Linked DNA regions of Homo sapiens. The protein of the gene in region 4 interacts with the protein of the main gene of each other region in a biochemical or structural test. Each region holds a gene or a part of one and is shown on either strand. Other genes may lie near its edges.

What was found. Proteins that work in one complex are often made in the same cells at the same time.
Region 1: the proteins of FRMPD4 (region 4) and NRXN3 interact in a test that uses a peptide from one of them, tested with the Homo sapiens proteins (one large-scale study listed by IntAct).
Region 2: the proteins of FRMPD4 (region 4) and KCNJ12 interact in a test that uses a peptide from one of them, tested with the Homo sapiens proteins (one large-scale study listed by IntAct).
Region 3: the proteins of FRMPD4 (region 4) and DGKK interact in a test that uses a peptide from one of them, tested with the Homo sapiens proteins (one large-scale study listed by IntAct).

The regions. Positions count from the first base shown.
Region 1 is NC_000014.9:78,707,884-78,712,968, forward strand, and holds part of NRXN3 (neurexin 3), read left to right. Parts: intron 1-898; exon of another isoform or gene 899-1,333; coding exon 1,334-1,772; exon of another isoform or gene 1,773-2,077; intron 2,078-5,085. UniProt on the Homo sapiens protein: Neuronal cell surface protein that may be involved in cell recognition and cell adhesion. May mediate intracellular signaling. Functions as part of a trans-synaptic complex by binding to cerebellins and postsynaptic GRID1.
Region 2 is NC_000017.11:21,373,926-21,379,752, forward strand, and holds the start of KCNJ12 (ATP-sensitive inward rectifier potassium channel 12), read left to right. Parts: upstream 1-2,431; 5' UTR 2,432-2,988; intron 2,989-2,994; exon of another isoform or gene 2,995-3,401; intron 3,402-5,827. UniProt on the Homo sapiens protein: Inward rectifying potassium channel that probably participates in controlling the resting membrane potential in electrically excitable cells. Probably participates in establishing action potential waveform and excitability of neuronal and muscle tissues.
Region 3 is NC_000023.11:50,386,730-50,391,814, reverse strand, and holds part of DGKK (diacylglycerol kinase kappa), read left to right. Parts: intron 1-238; coding exon 239-378; intron 379-1,405; coding exon 1,406-1,487; intron 1,488-3,196; coding exon 3,197-3,288; intron 3,289-4,161; coding exon 4,162-4,261; intron 4,262-5,085. UniProt on the Homo sapiens protein: Diacylglycerol kinase that converts diacylglycerol/DAG into phosphatidic acid/phosphatidate/PA and regulates the respective levels of these two bioactive lipids.
Region 4 is NC_000023.11:12,700,766-12,705,850, forward strand, and holds part of FRMPD4 (FERM and PDZ domain-containing protein 4), read left to right. Parts: intron 1-1,108; coding exon 1,109-1,245; intron 1,246-3,593; coding exon 3,594-3,720; intron 3,721-5,085. UniProt on the Homo sapiens protein: Positive regulator of dendritic spine morphogenesis and density. Required for the maintenance of excitatory synaptic transmission. Binds phosphatidylinositol 4,5-bisphosphate.

The DNA of each region.
Region 1 (5,085 bases), on a different chromosome or scaffold from region 4:
TCATTCCTTTTTATGGCTGAGTAGTATTCATATATATATATCACATTTTCTTGATCCACTTGTTGATTGATGAACGTTTGGGTTGGTTCCACAATTTTGCAATTGGAAATTGTGCTGCTATACACATGCCTGTGCAAGTATCTTTTTCTTATAATGACTTCTTTTCCTCTGGGTAGATACCCAGTAGTGGGATTGCTGGATCAAATGGTAGTTCTACTTTTAGTTCTTTAAGGGATCTCCACACTGTTTTCCATAGTGGCTGTTAGACAGTCATAACAGATTTTTTTAACTGCCATCCTCACGTTCTCCACCTACCTACCCACTCTGCAGGACAGTGGCCATGGCTTTGCAGAAGTGTACACTAACCTTGGGTAGGGCATGGAGGCAGAAAGCTCTGCTGGACCCCCTTGCAAGGTGAATTAGTATCTGGTTCAGTATTCTTTGTAAAATCAGACTCTCAACTAAATCAATGTCCTTGACTGACTGGCTGAAATAGGGCTTCAGGGTGTCTCATTCTACCACTGTACAGAGGGCACATGCAATGTGCAAAAAATAAAAACAAAAACAGACCTCTGTCCCCACCAGCTTTTAACACTTACTCTTTTCTTTCAAGTAATATATCCACATGGTTGAAAAAAAGTCTAACACTGTAAGAGGGCACAGTGAAAAGTAAGTCACCCTCCCACTCCAGAATATTAATCCCGCAAATATACTCCCCAATGACAATTTTATAGTTCCAAAGAGACTTTATGCTTACTGGAGCATATATACATATAATGCCCCCACGCCCCCACACTTTTACACAATGATAACATAATGCACCCTCTATCCTGTTCCTTGACAATTTCACTTAACAATGTGACCTGGAGAGCTTCCACATCAAAACCAAAAGCAATACCTTGTTTGCAAGGCCTGCCTAATATTCCATTATAACGCTGTGCCATCTGCTATTGATGGTCATTTAGGTTGTTTCTGGTATTTTACTAAGGGTGCTTCAGTAAATCACTTTGTATGAAGTATGTGAATCCATGCAACTCGATCTCTCTTGATTTTTATTTGCAAGCTTATGTTGTATAACTTTCTGACAACACAAGAAATTGGCCAGGAGACAAAAGAAATTCTGTAGAAATATAGAGGCTTTTTTGGAGCTTGTGTGCACATCAGATGTTTCTTCAGATACCTTTTTGGTTCCTGTGTCTCATTGTTTCTCATGTTGTTTTGGGCTATGTCCTGAAGCCTCTTTTTGGGTCATTTTTCCAGGTGCCCAGTGAGTGATGGATGGATACTGTTTGCAAGATTGATTCACATGGCACTTTTGTTTGGCTTTTGACAGGTTGTTTATAAGAATAATGACATCCGTCTGGAGCTGTCTCGCCTGGCCCGGATTGCGGACACCAAGATGAAAATCTATGGCGAAGTTGTGTTTAAGTGTGAGAATGTGGCCACACTGGACCCCATCAACTTTGAGACCCCAGAGGCTTACATCAGCTTGCCCAAGTGGAACACTAAACGTATGGGCTCCATCTCCTTTGACTTCCGCACCACAGAGCCCAATGGCCTGATCCTCTTCACTCATGGAAAGCCCCAAGAGAGGAAGGATGCTCGGAGCCAGAAGAATACAAAAGTAGACTTCTTTGCCGTGGAACTCCTCGATGGCAACCTGTACTTGCTGCTTGACATGGGCTCTGGCACCATCAAAGTGAAAGCCACTCAGAAGAAAGCCAATGATGGGGAATGGTACCATGTGGACATTCAGCGAGATGGCAGATCAGGTAGGAAGAGGCAGGATGTGTGACTGAGACTAGACGAAAGCTGTAGCTTCTCAGTTTGTTTTTTGGCTTTATGTTTCTTAATTTTCACCCTTGCATGCTTGTTGATTCTTTTGCTACTCTCTTTAATGGCTGTTGTAAAATTATGTTTCTGAAAAGATACCTGTCTCATAGATGGCTCACATTCTCCGCTTATCTCTCTTGTCACTCACTGCGCAATTGTCTCAGTGATAGCTCTACGATCCTGGAGCTAAGGATGGTTTTACAAGTAGCATTTCCACTGCTACCAGAGCAACTCTCATGTCACTGGTGTGATCCGCCCCCATTGCCCCATTCTTTGCTTCTCTTTTTCCTCATCACCATGGAAACCGATTGTGACATCACAGATGCTGCATTATGTGATTATTTTGTAGGATAAACTTCACTGTGCAAGAATTTATGCAACAATACACCCTTCAGTAATTGGCAAGAGTCATGTTGCATGGAGAAATTATGACAAGAAAGGAAAAGGCAAATTGATTTTTCCTGAAGATACATTCAATTTAAAGCCTTCCTTTGGTGTAAAAGCCTATATTTCACTCTTTGTTCAGACCTCACTAACTCTCTCTTCCTCTTCATAACCTTTTACATTTTGTTTAAATGGCTTTGTTTCTGCAGCTGCAGATCAAACAAGCTAGCCCCAGGCAGTACATAGCTACTATGGAATAGTAACAAAGTGGGGGTGGGGGTGGGGCAAAATAGTCAGGGGTTTTTGAATGCCTGGACAGTCTGCCTAGCTTTCTATGGACCATGTGGCAATGAAGGTCACATTCTGTGCTATCAGAAAGGGCATTTTCCCAAGAGCAGTAATTAGAGCATTTGCCATTTCAGACTCATTTCCTGATTCTCCATTTAGGTAGGATGTACTCAAGAAGGGTCTTGGCTTCATGTGCCATATTTATAGAGATTCACTTTCCTGATGAACATTAAAAAGTCTCTATTTGGATATTTTCTTTCTAGGTACATTTGGCCAGTAAGAGAGAGCAATAAGTTCCCCAAAAGGCTGAAACTGGGAGTGACTGAGCTTTGGTGGGTTGGCTTTTCTGCATAATTCCAAAGCTAGGCTGACGGCAGAGATAGCAATATTGCCCTTAGGAAGAGCTGGATGGGTTCTTTGCAGAGGGCAGATGGGTGGCAGATTGCAGCCCTGGCTATTTTATTGCCCAGTAGGAATCTTTACTGGTTGTCTGAAATCTGATCAGAACCAAGAGCCTTCAAATTAAATGTGCTCGTTAAGCAAGAATGAATAGTGTCTACCCTTTTACACAGAAAAACACCCAAAAAATTAATTTCTTTGGAGGCTAAATCCCGCCACACCCCCCATACTTCTTCTTCTTCTTTTCTTTCTCCTTCTCTGCTTTTCAGTAAAATGACAGCAAGAGCAGAGTCAGAAAGCTGTTCCAGAATTATAAAGAAAACACTGCTGTTGGTTTTTAAGAGCATGTGTTTGGGATCTCTGAGGTTAGGTCACGGTGGACGGGTTTTGTGTCTGACTAACCTAGACCTTGGCACAGCATAAAAGTTACCTTACCCGTGTCTCAGGCAGGCTAAAACACACAAAATTGCCATTTGTTCATTTCTGTCTGTTCCTAATACAAATTTTTCTTTCAAACAATTTTGAACAAAGGGGAACAGTTTTTGTTGTTTAAACCACCAGTGGACCCAACTTCAACAAATATGTTTGAATTTCAGAAGTCTTAAATTTCATACCTGGGAGCTAAAGCACTGGCTAATTCTTTTCTCTTTTTTTTTTTTTTTTTTTTTTTTGAGACAGAGTTTCTCTCTTGCTGCCCAGGCTGGAGTGCAATGGCGCAGTCTCGGCTCACTGCAAACTCTACCTTCCAGGTTCAAGTGATTCTCCTGCCTTACCTCCCAAGTAGCTGGGATTACAGGCACCCTCCACCAAGCCCAGCTAATTTTTGTCTATTTAGTAGAGACAGGGTTTCACCATGTTGGCCAGGCCAATCTCGAACTCCTGACCTCAGATGATCAACCCATCTCGGCCTCCCAAAGTGCTGGGATTACAGGAGTAAGCCACTGTGCCAGGCCTGGCCAGTTTTTTGAACTACTGATGAATTTGATCAAAGCCTATTAAAAACTTACTGAGTAAACAAACAATTGTCCCATGAAAGCAGTATAATCTAAAATTTTAATACAGTCTGTTAAACTTTCATTTTTTCATGAGAATGTTTTCTGGTAACTTGTTTTAGATTATAAATCTATACTAAAGGATAGTTATAAAAACAAGTGTATCTAAATGTGGTGCCTCCTTCCCTGATAATCTTGAAGAATAATATAACAAACAGTGATCTAGAAAAACTTTTATGATCACTCCTCACTTGGGCAAGTCAGTCTTAGAACTTGTTAAGTGCATTCAAAACTGTTATGGTCACACATTCAGAGAACAGATTTTCCTCAGGTTGTATTTAAGGCTCTAAAATTTAAATTGATTCTAGTATTGTCTTTACTTGGCAATAGATGTCTCCCCATTTTAGTTGGTGATCAGATTAGCCCTGTGGACCTGTGAGGGGTAAAGAAAGAAAACTATGCAACAGAGAAAATAGTAAGAGATAGAGACCTCAACTTCCTCCTTTGTAAGATAGAGAAAATAATAACTCCTACCTCCCAATATTGTTTTGAGGATCAAGTCCAAAAATGCACATAAAATAGTTAAAATGGTAGCCAGGACATTATTGTTGTTATATAAGTGTTTGAAAGATTGAAAAACAAAAGGCAAAGCATATTTCTCTAGGAGTAAACTTCTAGGAGGGAGTAGTGAAGCAGATTGTTAAATTCCCCTTAATATCCTTTCTATGCTTCTACTCTTGTGTTGACTTTGCACTTTATTTATTGTTTTTAACTTTAGTTAATTAATTAATTAAATTTCTTGAGAGCTAGTCTCACTCTGCCACCCAGCTTGGAGTGCAGTGGCACGATCTCAGCTCTCTGCAATCCCCACCTCCCGGGTCCAAGGAATTCTCCTGCCTCAACCTCTCGAGTAGCTGGGATTACAGGTGCCTGCCACCACACCTGGCTAATTTTTGTATTTTTAGTAAAGATGGGGTTTCACCATGTTGGCCAGGTTGGTCTTGAACTCCTGACCTCAAGTGATCTGCCCGCCTCAGCCTCCCAAAGTGCTGGGATTACAGGCGTGAGCCACCACACCCAGCCGACTTTGTACTTTAAAGTGTATGTTTCATTCTTGATCACGTCTGATCTTCGCAGCCCTTCAGGTTATATACCCTTCATAACTGAAGAAACTGAGAATCAGACAGAG
Region 2 (5,827 bases), on a different chromosome or scaffold from region 4:
CACCCCGGGAGGGCCGTGAGCCCCTCTGCCCACGTGGGGATCCCTGGGGCAGATGTGTGAGCTGCTTAGGGAGAGATCTGCCCACATCCCTGCCTCTTTGTGTCCCAGCCCCTCCTGGAGGGAGGCTGGTGCCCAGTGGCGTGGCAGAGGGGATTTGCTTTGAGGGGCCCTTAATGGCTGCTCATGGGTTGCAATTACAATTAAGAATTGAACTCTGACCCTGCACGTGGGTTGGGAGGGTGGGACGTGGAGCCCAAGGGAGTGGCCCAGGGAGTCAGGCTTGCGTCTCTGCTGGGTGACCTTGGGCAAGACGCTTGCCCTCTTTGTGAAATGGGTCTGATAATGGCTCTGGGAGTGGGGATAGGGAGGGGCGGAGACCTGGCCTGACTCACAGTAGTCATCTTGGGTGTCGAGCCCCTGGGCAGGGGCCCTGTGTGTGTGTGTGTGGGAAGGGGGGGGTGGTGTTCCAGGCGTGAGGATGCCCTGGGCACAGCCACTTGTCCCAGGAGCTGTCAGAATCTTAGACCCAGAGGAGCCCTGAGGTGTTCCCGTCCATTCCCTTGCCCCTTTCTAGGCCACCAGAGTAAGGCCTCGAGGGAGGGATGTCTCAGGCCCCATTCCTCTTGGGACAGCTGAGTGGTCTCTGAGGGTGGGAGCTGGTTTGAGGCTTCTTCCGCAGCTGGCTTGGGCTTCCCCATCTGGGAAATGGAGCAGGGGCAGGTGGGGAGCTGAGTCATTTCCCTCCTTGGTCACTCGGAGGGAGAAGAAGGAAGTTTCCTGAGAGCTTTTGGTCCCCTGGGAGGCTGTTTCTCCCAGGAGGAGGAGGAAACCAGGACACAGTGTGCCAGGCAGGGCAGGGTGGGGGCTGCAGACTTCTGCGATGCCCCTTCTTTCTCCACTGCAGCCCTAAGTTGAGGACACACCTGATTCTGCGTACTGGCTCCACCATCTGGTAGTTCTGTAATTAAGCAAGTGACCACCCCTCTGTGCCTCAGTTCCTTCATCTGTAAAATGGAGCCAATGAGCTTATCCACCACAGATGGCCGCAGTGGTAATGAAATAATTCTAGCTGGGTCCATAGCACAGAGCTCAGAACATATTGAGTGCTCCGCCTGGCTGTTTTACCAGCCAAGTCAAGTGCTAAGCACTTTAGGTAGACTCATCTCATTTAATCCTTGCTACAGCCCCATGAGTGTAGTGATTTCTACTGACAACAGGGAAACAGAGGCACTGAGTGGTGAAGTGACCTGTCCCACAGCTAGTCAGTTGAGGTGGGATTCAAACCCAGGGCAGACTGATGTCGGTGAGTGCTGGGCTGGATTTCACCCACCAGCTGCCTGGGGCCAGGATCCTAGGGCTGGTGGGGCCTGCAGATCACTCTGCTCTGAGCCGCCAGCAATCTGGGTGCGGGCCAGAGAGCCGTCCTCCTCGGTTAGAATCCTGCAGCCAGTCTCCCTGCTGTGCAGACACATAATTATATTTCACATTAAAGGGGAAGCTGGAGGCCAAGGGGGCCAAGGAGCCCTTTGAGGCTCATGCTCTGGGCACAGACTGGCCTCCTCGGCCCAATTCTGAGGCCCTAGGGCCGAGCTGGGGGTCAGACTGGTGACAAAATGGAGTTCCCCTGGGTCAGTGTCCAGGCGAGCAGGTCTGTCTGCCAGGATGAAAGACTTGGCCCCTGCGGGAGGCTCAGAGATATGAGGCCCAGACAATAGGCCTCAGAAAGCTGGGAGGGCAGGGCATTTGGGGACAGGTTGGGAAGAAAGCCTGAGCCTCCAGAGACAGGGGCTCGAAAGAGAAGGGGGTCACATGGGGATCCGGTCGGCAGAGAGAGGTCCAGGGAGGAGCACAGAGAAGGCAGGAGATGGGAGAAGCCAAGCAGCTCAAGATGGAGAGGAGAAAAATGCTATTAGGGTGGGATGGTGTGTGTAGAGGGTGCGTGCCTGGTGTGCAGGGGAAAAGGGCTCTGTGGGAATGCACAAGCTTAGACCTGTGTGTGCGTATGCACACGTGCAGATGCCATCCTGCATGTGCACATATGAGCGAGTGTGCACATGTGCCCCTGCGAACATCATGCATGTGGGGGCATGTATCCTGCATGTTTATGCCTGTGTGTGTGCTCGCCATGCACCTGTGCGTGCGCGCGTGTCCCCGGCGGACGTGCCTGCATGTGTGTGTATGTGTGTGTGCGCGCATGTCCCCGGGAAGTCGTGCCTGTGTGTGTGTGTGTGTGTGTGTGTGTGTGTGTGTATATATATATGTGTGTGTGCGCGCGCGCGTCCCAGTGCGCAAGTGGCTGGCGGTGTGTGTGTAGGGGGCGGCCCGGGACTAGGAGGGGCTCGGGGCCAGGCCGGAGCCGTGGTAGGCTGGTGCAGCGGCTGCGCGGCGCGGCGCGGCGCGGGGCGGGCGTGCTCTCCGCGGAGAGTTAGAGGAGTTGCCGAGCTGAGCTCCGGTGGAGCGAGGCGCGGAGCTGGGTGCGCGCCGAGCCTCTGCCTCCCGCCGCCTCCTCGCCCTCCATTCCTCGCTCCCCGTCTTCTCCCGGCCACACCGCCACTGCTGCCGCCTCCCTGGGAACAGTAGCCGGGGGAGGGGGACTGGCGCGGTCAGAGCCTGCGAGGAGGTGCGGGGCGCCGGGGCGTAGGGGAGCGCGCCGGGCCCTGCCCGAGATCAGATAACAGCCGGCGGGGGAGGGGGTGGGCCGGCCGTGCTCACAGCCGGACCGAGGGACCGACGCCAGCCGCCCCGGCCCAAGCGAGCGCCCAGCGGCCGGGGGCGCCGTCCAGGCGCGCGCCCCCGACCCGTGGCTGGACCAGGGCGATCCGCTTTGCAGAGAAGACGCGCCCCTCGGCATGGAGCGCCCCCGGGAGCTGCCCTGAGGCGGTGGCGGCAGCGGCGGCGATGCAGCCAGCGCGGCAGCTGCCGGGGCCAGGAACGGCCGCCCGGAGCTTGGAGGACGCCGAGCGCGCCGCGCCCGGGCCACTGACCGAGGTAAGTGCGCGGCCGCGGGCGCATGGTCCCTCCCGGGCCCGGCCCCAGTTCCCCGCAGGCCGCGCCTCGCCACTAGCCCGGCCCGGAGCTAGCACGAGGTTGTGCAGCAACAGGGAAGGTGGAGCGGGAGGGTGTTTTCTTCCTCTCGTTTTATTTTTTTCCCTCCCTTGGTGAGACATCGGAGGAAATGCTGACTGCGAGCTTTTCTTTTCCTGCCATGTCTCCGGCTACCACCACAAGGAACTTTGCTCCTGGCTAACCTTCGTCCTGGGGGGCGCTCCGGGAAACTTTGAGGAGCCCTCGGCCCCCCTCTGACTGGTTTGCACTAGGGGGCTCGGGAGGGAGCGTGCGGAAGCACTCTGGCGCGCGGCACGGGTCCTACGCGTGACCTTCCCGGAGACCCCGCGATCGAGGTGGGGTTCGGAGGTGGGCGCCCGGGCTATATGAGCCGCCCCGAGAATGCCTCCCGTCAGAGACCTGCGGGTTCTTGGAGTCGTGTCTCTTTCTCACCTCCCGTGCTGTAATGGAGTAAAAATATTCTGGAAATGATTCCATGCCAGCAAGTCAGCCAAGTCCAGAGGCTCCCTTTTGCTTTTAGAAGTCGGCCTTGATCTCCGAGGGGATGGCCGCTGGCTGAGAAGCTCCCAGGGTTTCAGGGCCAGGGTCCACCCTGCGCGCGCACGGCCTCTCCGGGTGCCCTGGGGGAGCGGGGCGGGAATCAGGGGCTCATGGGCAGAGACAGCTGGGGTGGGGCGCTCCTTGGGGGGTTCAGATGGGAGTTGAGGCCCAAGCGAGTGTCTGTGCCTCGGTTTTGATCCAGCGTGCCCATGTCATGTGAATATTTTAAAACCTGTGATCAGAATGGGGGTCAAAGTGTTTCTTTGGGGACGGTCTTGTTCTGGGAGGTTTTCCTGCCTCCTCACAGCCTGGACTCGCCCGCACCTGGGACCTCCCCCTCCCCATTTCCCAGGGGGCGTTCCCATCTTAGAGTACCGCGCTGCCTGTGGCCATTTCTAGTTTCTTTTTTGCTCCCCTATACCCAGGTTCGAGCCCTGCAATAAAGCGCTGGGGACCTCCTGGCTCCCACATCTGCGCCCCAAACCCAGGTTCACAGGCTCCGTCTCCGAGAGCGCCGAGGCGCCCACACGCCACTGAAATCGGCAGCCGCCTTTGGAAGGTGCGAACCCGGAAGGCGTTAGCCTTGGGCCTAGCCTTCGCCCCCTCTGAGATGCCAAAGGAGAGCCGGTCCCTGGCCGCGCGGCTGGACCCCAGCCTCCCTCGCGCTGCGCTGCACCTCCGCGGCCCCTCCTCGCGCAGCTCCGCCCTGGACCGCCGCCCTGTGGCGGGCGAGGGTCAGAGAGGGGAGGTCCATCTCAGCCCTGGGCGCCACCAGAGGCTTTCGCTCTTTTTGAGGGGTACTCCCTTCTGTATTCTGAGAAGAGCCCCTCAGTGTCTGCTGGGACCGCCCCCCCCAACAAAAGACTTCACAGCGAAGTCTGCCCCTCAGTTCTCTGGTGGCACCTCCAACCAGACAGGGGACCCGAGGTTGGCAGCTCTAGGAGGGGGACCCTGGGGGCCTGCCATTTGGTGGGGCCAAGCCGCCTGAGAGAGAGCAGGGAGTGAGGGCGGAGGGCACTCACTCGAGCACCCTGGAGACGAGGAGGGTGGCTCCAGTGTGCTGGGCCACAGGGACACCCCTCTTCTCCACTGGAGGGCCGCTGTAGGCATACAGTAGGCAGTCTGTAAATGCTGGCTGTTGACCCAGAGCTGGCAGGTAGGGGCTCCAAGTCCTCTATCACCTCCTTTTTCCCCTCCCAGGGGAGGGCATGGCTGACACCCCTCATCCCCAGCACTGAAGGGGGTGGAGCCTTCTCTGGGAGGGGCAGGACCTGAGCTGTCAGTCCATCTCTGGACACTCCCCCTGCAGCTACCCCGTCAAAACCCCATAAGGTTTCCAGGCTGCCCCGGAGGGGACCCCTCCAGGAATGTGCCTCAACTGTGCTGGAAGGAAGAGGTGCCTGGGAAGTGGTGGAGGGGTATTGCCTAAAACCATGCAGTGGGTTGGGTTTGGACAGATGCCTTCACCTAGCTCTTTCCAGGCCAGGCGCTTACCCCACCAGCCTTCCTGCCCCAGGGCCATGGTGTCCCCATCCCTGGGTCTCCTTGAAGCAGGACAAAGTAACACTGAGTGGCCCTGCAACAGCAAAATAATAATGACAGCAGTGATAACAGGAGTAACAGCAGCAGCAGCACCTGCAGCTCTGCAGCACTGGGGCCGGTTCTGCCTATGGGCAGTTTTCTCTGCCTAGCCAGGCCTCCGGTACCCTGGGCCACAGTTGGCAGTACCAAGCGTGGCACCCGGAGGCCTTGGCATATGGCTGGGGCGGAAGTGAGTGCATCATTACTGTCATCAACCTCTGTGGCCCTCGCCAGGTCCCCAGGCAGAAGGCTACTGGTACACACGGTGCCCACCCAGTGGCCACCCTCACCCCCCCTGCTCCCAGGCCCAGCTCTGGGCTGGGCCCTTCCTCCAACAGGTGCAGCTGGTGCCTGTGGCTGGGCCCTGGCCAGGGCTTTACTGTGAGCGACACATGGGTACACCTGCCCCTCCCCGGGCCTGCCCTTGGAGCCCTGCCACCGGCTAGCGTGGAGGAGAGTCAGGGAGGGGGCAGCTTGCGGGCAGCAGGAGGGGTGGAGGCTTGGCTGGCCACATGGAAGGTGCGGTGGGTGGGGGCTCAGCCCCACGGGATGGCTGTGCCGGGAACTGGCAGCGTGATGGGGACACGGCAGCAGGGAAAGGCTGAAGATGAAAGAGAGCTGGCCTGAAACTGGGCCGTGT
Region 3 (5,085 bases), about 38 Mb from region 4:
CGGCAACTTTTCCCTTTACTTAGTAGGTTCTGTGTTGTTAACACTGGGGTCCAACTCCTTAGGGAAAATTTCACCCAATTGCAAACATCCTCTCATTACCTTCCCCAGAATCTGAAGTCCCGTAAATCCACTGGTTTTAAGACCATAATTCTTCCCAAAGAGTACCCTCTGGGTTCCTTCATGGGTGAAGCTTGGTAGAAAGACTGTCTGAAAAGGGTGTCTCCTTTTGTTCTTGCAGTGTCAGTTGGCAGTCATCCCACTTGGAACCGGCAATGATCTGGCTCGTGTTCTGGGCTGGGGTGCATTCTGGAACAAAAGCAAGTCACCTCTGGACATCCTCAACAGAGTGGAGCAGGCTAGTGTGAGGATCCTAGACAGGTAAGTGGCTGAAAGACCAGGCCCTTGTGCCTCTTCCTGTCCCACATCACTCACATCATCTCAATCAGGAATACTTTAACCTCTCTGATTGATAGAGCCTCATTTCCTTTCTGGCTTCAGTGCAGAGCCATTTGTGGGTTGGGTGGGGCTTGTCTCTTGGGAAGCCAGGGTCTACCATGTATCCTTCAAACATTGAAGCCCCTCTTCAAAACTAAAGGATCCTACTGGGAAGTTAAGGCTGCAGTGGGCCATGATCATGCCAATGCATTCCAGTCTGGGCAACAGAATGAGACCCTGTCTCAAAAAAACCAAAACAAAACAAAAACAACAACAACAAAAACACCAAAAAAACTAGACGATTCTAGAGCAGGGGCCCCATGGATAACGTTCAAGGGTTCAGTGAACCCTCTTCAAATTGCAGAGCCAATGATCTGTTTAAGCATATTCTCTCTTGGGGAAAAGTCTATAATTTCATCAGATTTTCAAAGAAACTAAAAAAGGGATGGAGGGAGAGTTTAGAAATAACTTGCTTACATTGTCACTGCTCTAGAGAAGAGCAAGTACTACCATCCTATCTCCTGAGGAAAAAAAGACTTTCTATGCTGGTGTATATAGGAGCATTTGATTTATTGCTGCCCATAAGGATCTCCTGGGGAGCTTTTTAAAAACATCAACCTGAACCCCACCACAAAGATTCAGTAGGTCTTGGCAGGGCCCTGGAATGTGTATTGTACAAAAGCACCTCAGATGATCTTGATGGTTACCTCTGGTTAAGAAGCACTGCTCTCTGAGAACCCTGTAAAGGGAAGGCAATTCCTTCCATCACACTGGCCTACAGAAGTCATGAGACAGAGGTCCCTCTTATGGTCACCTTGAGATCAGGTGACCAGAGATTGCTTGGACACCCCCTACAACCCACCTCCCCCCACCACATAAACATTTTTACTTCTGTCTTCACCTTTGAAGCACTAATTTTTACCAGTCATGAAACAGACCCTTAAATATCCGTCTTTGAAATTCATTTCAGATGGAGTGTGATGATTCGTGAGACTCCCAGACAAACCCCGCTGCTAAAAGGACAGGTTGAAATGGATGTACCACGATTTGAGGTAACTACTGTTCAGCTGTAATTCAGACCAATATCTTTATTACTCAGTGAAATAATTGGCAAAACCCAGAGAGAAGCTTTTGCATTGTGCATGGATGAGGATGAGATCATTGAGAGTTGGTGACATGTCAGTCAGCAGCTATTTACCAAGAACTATGTTAAGCACTGGGGATATAATTCATTCACTCATTTACTTATTCATTCAAAATATTTATGGAGTAACTACTTTATGTGAGATATTATTCTAGGAGATGTTCTTATATGCTACTGGGTAAAGAAGAATGACATAGTCTACTTGAATAGATGGAAAAATAAATTGTTTTAATCAAGTAGTATGAGTGTTAGTATATAAGGAAGTAGAGGGGGTTGGGAACACATAGCAGGAAGATCTATCTCAGTCTGGGGAAATCAGGGAAAGCCGCTCAGAAGGAGTGCCATTTCACAAGATACTTGAGATCCAGAGGGAATTAACCAGGAGAATAAGAAAGGGGAGGGCTGTTCCACACAGATGGAACAGCGTGTATTGTTCCAAAGGCAAGGGAGAGCATGGAATATTCACGAAACTGAAGTACATTCATAATGGCTGAGGCGTAGGGGCCAGGAAGGGGGCATTCAGGGAGAGTGACTAAAGATGAGGCTAGAGAAGTAATCAGGGGCCAGGCCAGAAAGGGCCTGATAAACCACAGTAGGAAGTTTGGATTTCATCCTAAGAGCAATAAGAATTACAGAAGATTTTTTTCTTATCTTATTATGAAAATTTCTACATTGATGAAAGTTAAAATGGTAGCTCTACTACTAACATTTTCCTATGCGTGCTTTATCACATATCCAGTCATCTATCCAGTCTGCTATCTAAGAGAAGGGGTTTAAGTAGAGGAGTGCCATGGTATGTGGAGAAACAATTGAAGGAATAAAAGACTAGAGGCAAAGAGAAAAGCTAGGAGATGTTGTAATTGTCTAGGCAAGAGGTGATGGTGATTTGGACTGGTGAAGTGGTAGCAGGGATGAGTAGCAGTGGATACATTTGAGACATACTCAAAAAATAGAATTATCAAGTCTTGGTAGATGTTTGAATGTCAAGGGTGATAGAGAGGAAGGAGTAGAAGTTGTAATTAAGAGCACAGACTCAAGAGCCAGACTACCTGGAATTGAATCCTGGCTCTACAATTTATCATCTTTCCCTTCTCTGGGCTCAGCTTTCTCTTCTGTGAAATGGAGATAATAACAGTCTTTATCTCATAGGGTTGTTATGAGGATTATATGAAAAAATATACATGTAGCTTAGAACAGAGCCTGGCACATAGTCAGTACTATATAAGTGGGTGCTGTTATTATTGGTAGTAATATTATTAAAGAAGTTACATTCTGGAATTGGAAAGATGTAGATTCGAATCCAGCTTTATTCCTTACTAGCTATGTAATATGAGATTGTTTGTTCATTTGAAACATGAAAGAAATAGTACCTCCTTCATATGAGGTTTTGATTATTAAGAGAAAATGAAATACATCTAAATTTTTAGAATACGCATAGATCTAAGATCATCTCTGTTGACCTTCAACAAGAATTCTTTGATCATTATCATTTCCAGAGAGGCAGTTGAGTTGCGGGTAGAGTCAGTAAGAAACAATGAGGCTGCAGGGGATGAGGATGGGCAGCACACTGTGTTATTGTACTAAGATTCCAGGGCTAAGAACTCCTTTTGCCCCTAGGCTGCTGCCATCCAACACTTAGAATCTGCAGCCACCGAGTTGAACAAAATCCTGAAGGCCAAGTACCCCACAGAGATGATCATCGCAACCAGGTCAGTCTTCCTTTGGCTCTCATCCTTTGGGGCTGTTCCCAGGTCAGACATGGGGCTCATTTTGATAGCTGAGGGTGTTGAGGCCAAGGAAAATACATGTTTATGTTCCCAAATCAGATTTCTCCCAACTCAAACCCCCTGAATGGAAAGTTTAGGAAAGAAAGATGACATTGAGGTGAAGTCGTCTGCTGCTCCAAAAAGTCAAAATTGCAAGCCAGAGATTTGGGAAGAGAATTATAGTAGGGAAACACAACATTATAGACCATTTAGGAGCATAGCATAGCTCCCTATAGTATAGACACCTTGCTTTCCGTCTTTGACATTAAGAAAGGTCTCTGCAATATCTGCCTATAGCTGCTTTCTCATAACCTGAGGAACACATTCCCCCTTCTAAATATGTGGGTCATTTGTTTCTTCTGGGACTTCTTAGGGGGCTCCTGCCCAGTCGACTACACTCTCCTTTGAGAAAAACTTCCCACAGGGAGAGTCCTCCCAATATAATTGTTTGTACTAAATTAGCTGGGCCCTTGAAACATAGCTGATTGAACCTAGGTGAAAACCTGACCCAAGTTGGACCAAGTGAATTCTCTTTTCTGGAAATTCAGAATTAGTACTAAGAAATGCTGGTCAAGCTCTATTAGGTTCTTGACTTGGGAAGTGGTGTGACACTGAACTAAAGTGGGGATGGAACATATTTCACCATATGCACAGGAAAAAAAAAGCAGAGAGAAAAAGGCTGGGAGCAGAGGGTGAGAGAAAGAGGACAGATCAGGAAAGAGAGAGAGGAGGAGGATGGGGACTGATGACATAAGAGAGAAGGGCTCTGGGCCTCATGGTTCATGTAACATTGTGCCATCTATTTTATCTTTCCAGATTCTTGTGTTCAGCTGTGGAAGATTTTGTGGTTGATATTGTAAAGGCCTGGGGTCAGATAAAACAGAACAACACTGCAATAGTGTCTGTGATTTTGAAAGTAAGTTCCCATTCCTTTTGTCTTATACTCTTTGTGGAGCAGCCAGGGGCCCTTTTTAATAAAAAGCAAACATGCCTCTCACTGGGAATGGTAAAAGAAAGGAAAGGAGGGGCAGCTGTTAAGCCTCCCTGATGAGGAAGGTCTAACCTCATTGAACTTCCATCTTTTGCTAAATGAAGGATGGCGCTCTGCATGCATACACACATACCATGTACATGCCAAGCATCTGCCCACAACTAGACACAAGTGTACATCAAGCAGGTATGTGCATGGTTGTACACCAGAACATGCTTACAAGTATGTACATACGAATACACACTACAAATACATTCACATTTACCTCTCTAACAACAATAGCCAACATTTATATAGCACTTACTCTGTGTCAAGGACTGTTCTGTTTTTAATGTATTAATGTATTTATTCCTCACAACTACCCTAGAATATGGAGGCACAAAGCGGTTAAGAAACTTGCCTCAGATCGCAAACTATTAAGTGATGGAGCTAAGAATCAAGGCCTTAAATCATGCAGCAGATGTAGGTCCCCAAGCCTGTACACATACAAAGACACACACCAAGCACCCAAGCAGGGACACGTTCATATCCAGAGGAGCGTGCCCATGAAAATCCAGAAATATTTGTCTTTCCTCAAGTTTGCATGTTATACATTGTTTTATAGGCCCGTTTGACACAAGAAAGACTCAGCTATATACACTGATGCATGGGGCCACTCAGAAACAAATGATATGTGTTTGATCTCCTAACACCCTTTGGTTATCTCATCACATCTTCCCACCTACTTCTTTTGCTAAGTACTTCATCTT
Region 4 (5,085 bases):
CCAGTGAGATAGTATGAATCCCGTTTGCACAGATGAGTAAACTGAGGCTGCAAGAGTTAAAGTGAATGGTCTAAAATTACTTACACAGGTAGCCACTGGGAAAGGCAGAACGCCAGAACAGGTGGATATGAGTCCCAAGCCACTGTGCTCACTCACCGTGCTAATTCTGCCTCCCTGCAGCTGCTGTGGCTGATAAGGAGGAGGAGGAGAATGATGTTAGCAGTGACAGTAGTAAACATGTAAGAGGGCTTACACCCTGCCAAGTACGGTTCTAAGAGCTTTTGGGGTTTTGTTTTGGCTTCTTTTTTTTTTTTTTTTTTTTTTTTTGACAAGGTCTTGCTCTTTTGCCAAGGCTGGAATGCAGTGGTGTGATCAAGGCTCACTGCAGCCGCAAACTCTTGGACTCAAGCGATCCTCCTGCTTCAGCCTCCCTAGTAGCTGGGACTACAGGCACACACCACCATGCCCAGCTAATTTTTGTGTTTTTTGTAGAGACTGGATTTCGCCATGTTGCCCAGGCTGGTCTTGAACTCCAGGGCTCACGTAATCCACCCGCCTTGGCCTCCCAAAGTGCTGGGATTCTAAGAACTTTTCATGGTTCACTCATTTAATGGTCACCACAACCCAGTGAAGAGGGAGCAGTATTATCCCCAATTTACAGAAGAGAAAACTGAGGCACAGACAATTAAGAAGGTGCCCAAGTTTGTGCCCCTAATGAAGTGGAGAAACAAGTTTCAAGCCTAAGATTCCAATTCCGGCAGCCTAACTCCAGAAGCCACATTATGCTATCAATGCTGTGTGCATTCAACTGCGGCACCTGTGTTTGGAAATTTCATACCTAAATTCCTAATTGTTTTTACAAAAAGCTAAATATTTAAATAGCAGCTCGTCGATGAATGCTAAATGTTTTGTGTGGTCTCTGTGTTTGCGCTTGCAATTCAATACTGACTCGTTTCCAAGCAGCACGGTGGAGATGTTTCCACATTTAGCCTCCTTGCCTGGGAAGTGAAGGTTGAATCACTCGGGAAATGTATGTCACCTGTTCTGTAAGTCCACGCGCTGCGGCCTATTCTTTGACAAGCTGTGCCCCCTGCTGGTCTCTTCGCAGAGTTGTAACGATGTGGTTCAGGAGCGATTTGGGCCGGAGCTGAAATATGACATAGCCCTGCGGCTGGCCGCATTACAAATGTACATTGCAACCGTTACCACCAAGCAAACGCAGAAAATCTCCCTCAAATACATCGAGTAAGTGTTGACTCTCAGCGCCATTTCGGAGACAGACATGCCGCCTCCCTTAGCCCGGGTGTATTTTTGTTATTTGTCCAAAATTGATCTTGTTTGTGTCAAAGCATTCATTCGCCAGTGGCAAAATGTATGAATATCATGCTCATTTCTGGCAGAAGAGATCCATTTCTAATCCACCTTTAGAGCATTGTAGTTAAGATGAGGGACATATTTAAAACGAAGCATAAATTTTTGAATTCCTAAAGGGGCTTGATTCCAAGCCAAGCTTTGGTCTTAGCACTTTTCACACATTAATTTGTTTAATTCTCACAACACCCCTATGAGATTAGTAGGATTTTAGCTTCATTTTACAGACGAGCAAACCGAGTCATAGAATAACTTGCCCAAGTCAAATGGCTATTAACGCGGGGATATAGGATTCAAACCCAGGCAGTGGGACTCCCCGTTGTGCTATAGATTGTGTGATGGGTTGAGGCACCTGTGTTTGGAAACACATGTAATGCTAAAGCCTTGGACCTCCCCCCACACCCTGCTTACAATCTCACCTCCAAAAGATGTATAAACTAATTAAAATCCCACTTTCCAAAGAAACTTCTCATGGGCTGCCTAGAAAGCCTTTCTAAATTCCACAATGCCAGGTTCACCCACCAGGGGGCAAAATGGCTTTTCTCAATAAATTCATGAGCCTGTGTTGGGAAGGATTAAATCTCCAACTTGCTGACTTCAACACCACTGTTCTGACAACTCTCAGTCACCTGTTGACATGTAGGGACAAATCCTCATATGCAATTTGAGAACCTCAGGCCTTCAGTTCACTCCTTCCAGATGCTTTCTCTCTCTCCCCACACATAAGCGTGACTGTAGCCTGAGAAAGACTTGGCTCACAAAGAGATCTCGTGCTCAGCTGGACACATTCACACACTCTTCCACTCTCCTTTTTAAAGTTCTTGGGGACAGGTGAAACTGGCTGCCATTTGAAAAGGTGGCCTGCACAACCGGAGTTGATTTTCAGACAATTAAAATGCATTTCTTTTCCTACTTTGTGTACCCACATTTTACCAGGTTGAACATTGTATGGTCAAAAACGTCTCAGAGATATCTGGCTTGAGTAAGAATCCTGAAAAGTCTGTAATAATGTTCTCATTCATAAATTCCTTTGACCAACAAATATTCATTGAGCATTTTATATAGCACTCACATTAGGATAGTAGAAAATACTAATATGTATGAATTATATTCCTGGCCATTGAGGAACTTGTGGTCTGATTGTAAAAACAAGATATAAAGATAGGAAAAGTAATTATTTAAAATAATGATACAAGTAGGATTACAAGAAAGCCCATAAGTAGTGCCAAATGATGGATAAGACAATAAGTACAAGTTGAGAAGGAAGAAAACATAATGATCATGAAATATACCATCTTAACTAGTGAAGAATATGAATGGTCAAGTGGTGGGGGTAGGTTGTCTTCCTACCCTTCTTTGGAGAGGACCTAGAACAGGAGAAATAACTGGAATCCTCTTGAAGGTCTTCACATAATTTAGAAGACACTGGTTAGACACATAACCTAGGGTAGGATTTCTACTCCAGGATAGATTTCCTAGAATTCAAAATATGGGACCTTCTTAGAAGGGGGTGGTAGTCGTTTCTGGTGAAATTGGCTCTTTGTAAAAATGTATTAACTCAGTCCCATTTGTTGTTGTTTTGTTGTACATCCACGTCCATGAATGAGAACAGCATCTCCACATCAATACTGGGCACACTTAAGAGTCATGAATCACACCCAATTCCACACCACCAGCAAGAAATGTTGATGGAGGGAGTTAGACAGGAACTGGCTGGGACAAAAGAACTGTGTGTGCCTAGAGAAATAGCCATGGAGGAGGGGAGGGACAGGGAAGAATGGTTTGGGGACATGAAGGACTTGCATCCATTCTTCTAAGAGAGGAAGAATATGAGCAGACAGGGAGATTGGAGAATAGAAATCAACAAAGGGATGGAGAGAAATTGGTGTTGGAAATACAAACTCGGATACGTGAGTGACTTTGAAGAGATTCAGAAGTTGGTTGGACAAAATGTCTCTTCACTTTACATTGGCTCCAAATGCCTCCTTAGCATTGTCTCTAGAGAATGAGGAACAGATTTCTTTTTAAATGCAAACATGTGTATTAATGATCAAGTAGTGTGTGTCCTGAGTGTAAATTAAAAGTTACTTCCTTTGGGGACTTGTCTCCATTCTCTGCCTCACCAAGGGTTCATTTGTTCCAACAAACATCAGAGCACCATTTTGTCTTAGATAACTCATCATCACAGAAATGTGAAATTAAAGATATGCTCTTTATTGCAGAAAAGAATGGGGATTAGAGACTTTTCTTCCCTCTGCTGTGCTGCAAAGCATGAAAGAGAAGAACATAAAGAAAGCACTTTCACACCTTGTCAAAGCAAATCAAAACTTGGTACCACCGGGTAAAAAGGTATCACATTTCCATCTTAAAAGAAAATTATAAAGAGAGAGGCTTGAATGCATTTTTTAAATGTTTAAAATTAGCTCATGAATAAAATACTTAGTACCATATTTTCAGAAGCAGTAACACTGTGTAACTTTTTTCTAACTATTAACATGTTTCTAACACTAATGAAAAATAAGTATTCATATAGAAACCTATTTCTTTCTCACAAGTTATGGACTCCGTACTGTAGCAGGGAGGTATGTGTTCATGTGCCCATCCAGGAAAAGTTTGCGTAGCCTCTGAGACCTTGTGGATAGAAGATAGAATTGTGAAATCATTCTATGTTTCAATCATGCAATTGCTTACTGCTCAGACCAGCTTCAATGCACAACAGCCAGCAAGAGGCCCTGCAGGCCAGAGGCCACATTAATTAAACCAGGGATCCTCAACTGTGGCGTAATTGACATTTGGGAACAGATCATTCTTTGTTAGGGAGTTACGGGGAACATCCTGTGTATTCTGGGATGTTTAGCGGCACCCCTGGTCTCTACCCACAAGATGCCAGTAGCACCCTCCCGTGATCGTGACAAACAAAAATGTCTCCAGACATTGCCAAATGTGCTCCCGGGAACAAAATCACCCCTATTGACAAACAATGGATTCAATCCTACCTTTGGAGGGAAGATAAAATTATTGCTGTCATTCACCATCATTAGTGTTAAAATCTTTTTATGCTTTTGTTTTTGTTTTCATTAAGTAAGAGAAACACAAAGGAAATTTTAAAATATACTGTTGGTCAGAAAAGAGAGGTATAGTTTATAGGTAATAAAAAGCAAAGGATTCCAGGAACCAGAAAGAGAAGGAGCCTTAAAATACTGGATCTATAAAATTGGAAGCAGTCTTATAACTGAAGAACACTTTCCAATTGATATTAGCTGGAGAAATTTGTGTGACTCTAATACAAATCACTGTTTACGTGGAGAACCATTTTGTCTTAGTATCTGATTTTTTTAAGTCATTTTTACTGGGTAAGGTACATTTATTTCTATCCCCTCCTCACCCCACGACAATTTTTTTTTTTAAGTATAATCAGTTTCAACACACTATCAGCCACCTTTAACTCACTTCCCAATTTCATGGGAAGGATGTCTTTGATCACAGTGAGCATTCAGCTTACAGAGATGTAGCAAGATGATGTGGGTCAAGTTCTTTTTAACTTCAGTTCTGATTTGCTGGAAGCTAATTTCTATAATTGACTTGTGATTTTTTTTTCAAGCCTGGCCCACTCGTAATAATTTGGATAACTGCTATAAGATCAATCAACCTATCCATTTATCCATCACTGTCCTTTAAAGGTTGTTTTTCTAGCCAAGAGTGAATAGTTTGCTT